Homo sapiens: one gene and its partner. The protein of the gene in region 2 interacts with the protein of the main gene of each other region in a pairwise test. Each region holds a gene or a part of one and is shown on either strand. Other genes may lie near its edges.

Region 1 (3,337 bases), on a different chromosome or scaffold from region 2:
TGCTGTAAGTTAAAGCTCTCTTCATTAACACTAACTTTCTCTTATTTTACTTTATTTTACTTTTTGAGACAGAGTTTCAAGTGATTCTCCCACCTCAGCCTCCCAAGTGGTTGGGATTACAGGCGCGTGCCACCATGCCTGGCTAATTTTCGTATTTTCAGTAGAGATGAGGTTTCACCATGTTGGCCAGGTTGGTCTCGAACTCCTGGCCTCAAGTGATCCCCCGACCTCAGCCTCCCAAAGTGCTGGGATTACAGGCATAAGCCACTGTGCTCGGCCTGTGAAAATTCTTAATTACTACATAACATTCTCTTGCTAGTAGCCAGTAATAGAGCTATGAAAAAAAATTAAACATTCTCTTGCATTAAGCGAAGTGTTTCAATATATTAAATGTCTGACTTTCTAAAGTGCAGGAGAAAAGGCAAATTTTTCAAAAGCAATCTGAAAATAAAACTTTGAAATGTACAAATTAATTAAAACTTACTCCCGGATCTTTTTTTCTGATCCATCTCTTCCAGGGTCATAAACTCCTTTAGGCAGATGTTGTATAAGACCTATTCTTTGAGCTATCCTAATTTGTTCCTCTTCAGTCAGCTGAGTTGCTAGCCGAGTCTGGCTAGGTGTTGGGTGGTAGACTGGAACTGGAACTTGTTCCTAAAATATTAAAATATAGAGGAAAAAGATTATTTTTTAAAAACCTTTCGAGGGCTTATTTTTTGGTCAGAGATAGAAGGGAAAGGGAGCCCTGGGAGGGGTAGGAAGCTGGGCTAGTGTTTGGCTGTATGACTGTGTTTCACCCTGCCTTAACTTCAGCTACTAGAATAAAACATACACACACCAAAACATTCTCATTCTGCCTAAAGGATATAAACACAGACTTCACTGAACTGGCATGGAATGTTAAATGAACTATTTCCACATGATAAGAGACCAGCCTGGACAACATAGCAAGACCTCATCTCTAAAAATAATTTTTAAAACTTTTTAAATGGACTGGACTATGGCAAAAATAAATCTAAAAGTTATCTAAGACTAACTTTCCCATTTCATAGGACCAAGCTTGCCTACAGTCACTAATTGACAATACTGAAATTAGAATTCTGCTGCTCCTAATCCAACTGATTTTTTACACAACAAAACAATTCAAAGGAATCGTGTGTATAACCCCCACCTTTTTTTGAGATAGGGTCTCCCTCTGTTGCCCAGGCTTAAGTGCAGTGGCACAAACACAACTTACTGTAAACTCAACCCCCTGGGCTCAAGCAATCCTCCAACCTCAGCCTCCTGAGTAGTGGGGCCACAGGGTTGAGCCATGGTGCCTGGCCTATAATAATATTTAAAACTGAGCAACTCTGATGGAATGAAGCTGGGATGGAGTGTGGCCTAGAAGGGATGAGGCTCCCCATCCCCAAGCCCTCACCTTGGTTACCTTTGCAGAATCCTCAGAATCAACAGAGCAGTCTGAAAAACACTACTATCTCAGAAGATGAGATTTTCAGTCTGAAGAATTAAATTATAAGATTTCAGTCTCAGCTCGGCTACTTACTGTGATTGCTTGGACCAAGTCTCTTAATGTCTTTGAATAAAGCAGATAACAGTACCCACTTTAAAGAGTTGATATAATCATGAGATAACTAAGAGCTTTGTAAATGCCAATATTTGTAAATTATTCTAACATCTCCCCAACGTCATGATTCTCCCCATCATGATTCTCTGCTTTGCAGACTTTAAGCTAAGTGCTACTGTCCTTGGCTTTGGTCCTGGCTTTCTGGCTTCTCTTTGAATACTACAAACTCTTGGACTCTGTTGTGATCTCTGCCAGCTCTGAGTTCTTCAACCCTTGAATTACCATTTCCAGTCTAAATTACCTTCCTGAATCTTAGCCTCAGTCCTAGTTGACCAGTTTTGATGAGCTGTCATCCACACGCAAACTGGGAACAAATTGGTTTAAGACTAAGATAATATAAAGGGTCTCTTAAATCCTTGAACCTAACAAACAAAAATAACTAAATTGTTTTAGAGAAAATAAACTCCAACTATGGGTTTTTCAGAGGCTAGATTTCTTCAGTCTTGTGGTTCACATACGTGTAGAGAACACAGAAAGCAGAACAGAAAAGGAAAGTTCTACTTTACGGGGAAACATTAATAAACATTAAAGAAGAAAATAAAAACTATATTTTAATTCACGTTATGAGTGTATTTTCTCCTTTGGTATTTTTTTGTTAAAACAAAGGAACCCTCTCTATATCTTTTAGATATTTAAAATGATTGAACAATCTAATTTCAGTTTACATGGTTCAGAAAACCATAGAGGAAAGGAAATGACTAAGACCTCCTGATATTTTAAAGATGAATGTGGCCTCACCCTTCTTACCACACATGCCTAATTTTAAATTTTAATTCCCATGATACTTGTTTTAAAATGGCTTGATATCTGAGTTATCAATTGTTTCATAACTAGACAGCCACTGATTTTCTAGGCAGCAAAATGGAATCCTGATTCAATTGTTGGCTAACAGACACTGAGTGAGTAGAAGATTAGACAGGGGTATAAAAACAACAATTTTAAAAGATGTGATGGCTGGGCATGGTAGCTCATGCGTGTAATCCCAGAACTTTGAAAGGCCGAGGCAGGCGTATCACCTGAGGTCAGGAGTTCGAGACCAGCCTGGCCAACATGGTAAAACACCATCTCTACTAAAAATACTAAAATTAGCTGGGCGTGGTGGTGCACGCCTGTAATCCCAGCTACTCAGTAAGCTGAGGCAAGAGAACTGCTTTAACCCGGGAGGCAGAGGTTGCAGTGAGCCAAGATCTTGCCACTGTACTCTAGCCTGGGCAACAGAGAGAGACTCCATCTTAACAACAAAAAAAGATATGGATTTGGGGGTGGTTCCCACCATTCCCTATCTGCGAACACTATATGGTTTATGTTCAACACCTGCTTCCCCTCTGAGAATCAGGAATTTTGTCATATGCTAGGCAGTGGGTGCCTAATCAGTACCTGGGGCACTGAGTCTCCAAATGAGCTTCTCTGGCAGAAAACCTTTCATATATGTTGAAGGAATTAAGCATGTCCTGTGTGACTCCACTAGGAGATAACTCTTGGAAGCTTGTGCTTAGTTCCCTTTAGACCAAAGCACCTTTCCCCTTAGCTGATTTTGCTTTGATTCTTTGCTGTAACAAATCATAGATGTGAGTAAGATTATATACTAAGTCCTAAGAGCCCTCCTATTGAATCACCAAACCTGGGGACTGTTTTGAGGACCTCCAACGCCAGTGCTAGGTTGTGCTCCCACTTTATATTTGCAAAGCTACTGTGTTTCGTCCCCAGCTG
Region 2 (3,311 bases):
GGGCATCACGAGGAGGTCTGACCATCCCCTGAGCAGAGCCCTCTCCACAGTGTTTGAAGAGTATGAGAAAATTGCCAACAAGAGCATTGAGGACAGCATCAAGAGTGAGACCCATGGCTCACTGGAGGAGGCCATGCTCACTGTGGGTAAGAGCTCAGACTTGCACGTTTTTCAGGCCACAGGGCTCACCGTGGGGCAGCACCAAAGAACAAAGGGCCTAGGGATGCGACCACAAGAGAAAGAATCCCTGTGTCACCTTCACGGGATGTCCCCCCGACTCACACTCTGCCTGTCTCCCTCACCCAGGGACTGCTCCACCTCTAGAGTCCCAGTGTGTGCTGCCAAAGATTGTTCTCTGTGCTGCCCACGTGGTGCCCAGTGCTGTGTGGGTGTGTCTGCATGAGTGTGTGTGTGCGTGAGAGTGTGTGTGCCTGAGGGTGTGTGTGCATGACTGTGGGTGGAATGTGAGTGTGTGTGTGTGAGACAGACAGTGTGTGTGTGTGCGCACACAAATGCATACGCCAGTGATTATGCCAGCCCCAACCCTGTGTGTACTCATGGCAGCCATGCAGGGAGCACTCTGGCTGTGGTTGTGAAGCCCTGGCCAGCACAAAGTCATCTTTCTGGACATGAACCAGGGGCCTGGCCCCTGCCTTCATTGCCAGTTGAAGAAACAGTGATGTGTGGCTTGAGTCCAAACTGAGTGACGGATGGTCTGATGCTGAGAAACACTGGGGATCTTCCCCACAGCAGGAAGTCAGGGCCACTCAGGAGGACCCACTCCAGAGCTCTCATGGGTTCCAGGGCTGAGATCACAATGGGAAGAGTCACTGCAGAGTAAAGAGCTGAGGCCCAGGGCAGAGGGACGTCTCTTCTCCCACTTACACACAGAGCCCAGGTCCGGACTCCTGGCCTGCAGCTCTCACCTCCACACCAGGCTGCCTCCGTGCAAAGCCAGCAGCCAGCAGGCTCCCTGCTGTTTCCTAGCCTCTCTGGGTGGACAGGGCCATCTGAGACACCCCAGCTGGCCTTGGATGCTGTGATACAATCCGGTCTATGTCAGGACATCTAATCACACCCCTGCTCCAATCTCAGCTTCCACCCCTGGATCTGGCCTGAACCCACCAAGAATGAAGTCTGCCAGCAGGGAATAGTGAAGCCATGCAGTGCTCCGTCATGCTGGGCCTTCCTATTCACTTCACCTTGAAGCCTCGCATCAGTCTCACTTCCCAGATGAGTCAGGGAGGTTGAGTAATGAAGCCATACTGCACCATCAAGGCAGGAAGTGAACACATGCCTACCTCACTCAAAGCCCATGCTCCTTCTGCAGCCCTAAGTGAAAATGCCAACCTTCCCCACCCAGATGCCAAGTCTCTGAGCAGTACCCATGGGAGCAAGCATGGGCCCAGTCTCTGGACCAGACGCCCCCAGGTGCCTTAGTCCTGTGGGGCCAAACTCCACTTGTCACATGGGAATTCAAAATGCAGGGTTCCTGCTGATAAGTGTGAGAGAGAGGGCACTCTGAGGCCAGCAGCCACCATCCCATGGTGCTTCTGTGGAGCTGAGAGGCTGGATTTTTGGTGGAGGTGTCTCTGGGTTGAGAGCCCAGGGCCTGTCCTGAGTCTGAGCTGCCCTTGGATGGGCTTGAGCTGGTGTCTTCAGACGAGCCCCACAGTCTGGTGCATTTCACATCTTACCCTTTTGCCTGCCTGCTTGGGCCTTTGGAGCTGTGCCCAGTGCCCCGGGCTACCTTCCCTGTCCCACGCCACCTGACACAAAGCCTCTCACATTGGGAAAGGCACGGAACAAAGAAATATGCCAAGCCTTGCACAACACTGACTCTTAAGACCTAAGGCAAGACATAAAGTTGTAGGCAGTGCCACCTACCAGCTCCAGACATTAACACAGCTTTCTTGTTTGCCAGTGAAATGCACCCAAAACCTCCACAGCTACTTTGCAGAGAGACTCTACTATGCCATGAAGGTAACTGTCCTGTCTTCTTCTTCCTGACGCTCACCCTACATAGCACCAAGTGCAAAGCCAAGGAGCTCAAAGCCACCACGATCCTCCACACGGGGGAGTTATCTTACCCAAACCTGTCGTGGATCAGAAAGGTTTTAGTTCTCGGAGGTGAAATTGAGTCTGGGAAAGGGACGCTGCATCTCCAGAGGTGAATAATTCCCTGAAACTAAAACCATTGCCCGTTTTCTCTGATTGATGGTTGCTGATATCCCCTGAAGTTAGTTCCACACCCGAAACCCAAGCCCTCTGGCCACTTCTGCCCAGGAAATGAGAGAGGGCATGCGATTCCCTTGGCCATGTGGCCCCAGCTGACATGAGACTGGTCAGGGATGAAGGTGAGCAGGAAGGCCCTGCCTGTGAAATTCCTGGCTGAGCTGATTGCTGCCATTGCTCTAGTAGGAAGTCTTGTTCCTGGAGCAGTGAGTATTTTGTGTCTAGAATCTGATGTGGCAAACCAAACATACTGCAGTTTGGAGCACTTGGCATCATAAAGGAAGAGTTCTGGGCAGTGGGTGAGAAGGAATTAAGGGAGTGGACACCCTAAGCCACCAAAGCTTCCCTCCTAATGCTTCCCTGGCTGAAGCACAGGCTCCTTCCCACATCTCCCTCCCTCTAAAAGCCCCAGAACCCAACCACACAGATCCGTCCATCACTCAGAGATGGACAGGAAAGGTGAGGCAGGATTGTTGATGGCTGCTGTCTTGCCCAGGGAGCAGGGACGCGTGATGGGACCCTGATAAGAAACATCGTTTCAAGGAGCGAGATTGACTTAAATCTTATCAAATGTCACTTCAAGAAGATGTACGGCAAGACCCTCAGCAGCATGATCATGGTAAGCAGGCATTCCCAATGCTGAGGCCAGCCTGAAACCCAGACATTCAGGGAAACCTGGAGGCTGTGGCCAACACTACGTGAGCCCCTCCCTTCCCAGTGGGCACCATGTGCTTGCATTCATGACCATGTGGTGTGTGCAGGGAACAGCAGAGGTCAGTGTGGCTGGATCCCAAGGGGAATGGGGGGCAGAGGGGAGATGCAGAGACCAGGGCACAGAGGCTCCCCTGTGTCCCACTCAGAAAGTTGGTTTCACATTTAAGTTATGGTTGCTCCTTGGAAAAGACACCAAATCCTTGCAGAAGAAGCCACCTCTGAAAAGTCAATGAGATGAACTAGTCCGGTAGGAATCGGGCCCACCGCTCAAATCCAGATTTAAGTAGTCCTGGCGGCCAACTTCTAAGGAGATAAGTCAGATGAGCGCCAATAGACTATCTAACCAGATTCCAATTAGCAAA

What was found. The genes of interacting proteins can lie anywhere in the genome.
Region 1: the proteins of ANXA8 (region 2) and RNF11 interact in binary tests that used the Homo sapiens proteins (3 or more experiments, as listed by UniProt).

The regions. Positions count from the first base shown.
Region 1 is NC_000001.11:51,267,273-51,270,609, reverse strand, and holds part of RNF11 (RING finger protein 11), read right to left. Parts: intron 655-3,337; coding exon 485-654; intron 1-484. UniProt on the Homo sapiens protein: Essential component of a ubiquitin-editing protein complex, comprising also TNFAIP3, ITCH and TAX1BP1, that ensures the transient nature of inflammatory signaling pathways. Promotes the association of TNFAIP3 to RIPK1 after TNF stimulation.
Region 2 is NC_000010.11:47,470,805-47,474,115, reverse strand, and holds part of ANXA8 (annexin A8), read left to right. Parts: intron 1-50; coding exon 51-146; intron 147-1,095; coding exon of another isoform or gene 1,096-1,154; exon of another isoform or gene 1,155-1,917; intron 1,918-1,924; coding exon 1,925-1,983; intron 1,984-2,731; coding exon 2,732-2,854; intron 2,855-3,311. UniProt on the Homo sapiens protein: This protein is an anticoagulant protein that acts as an indirect inhibitor of the thromboplastin-specific complex, which is involved in the blood coagulation cascade.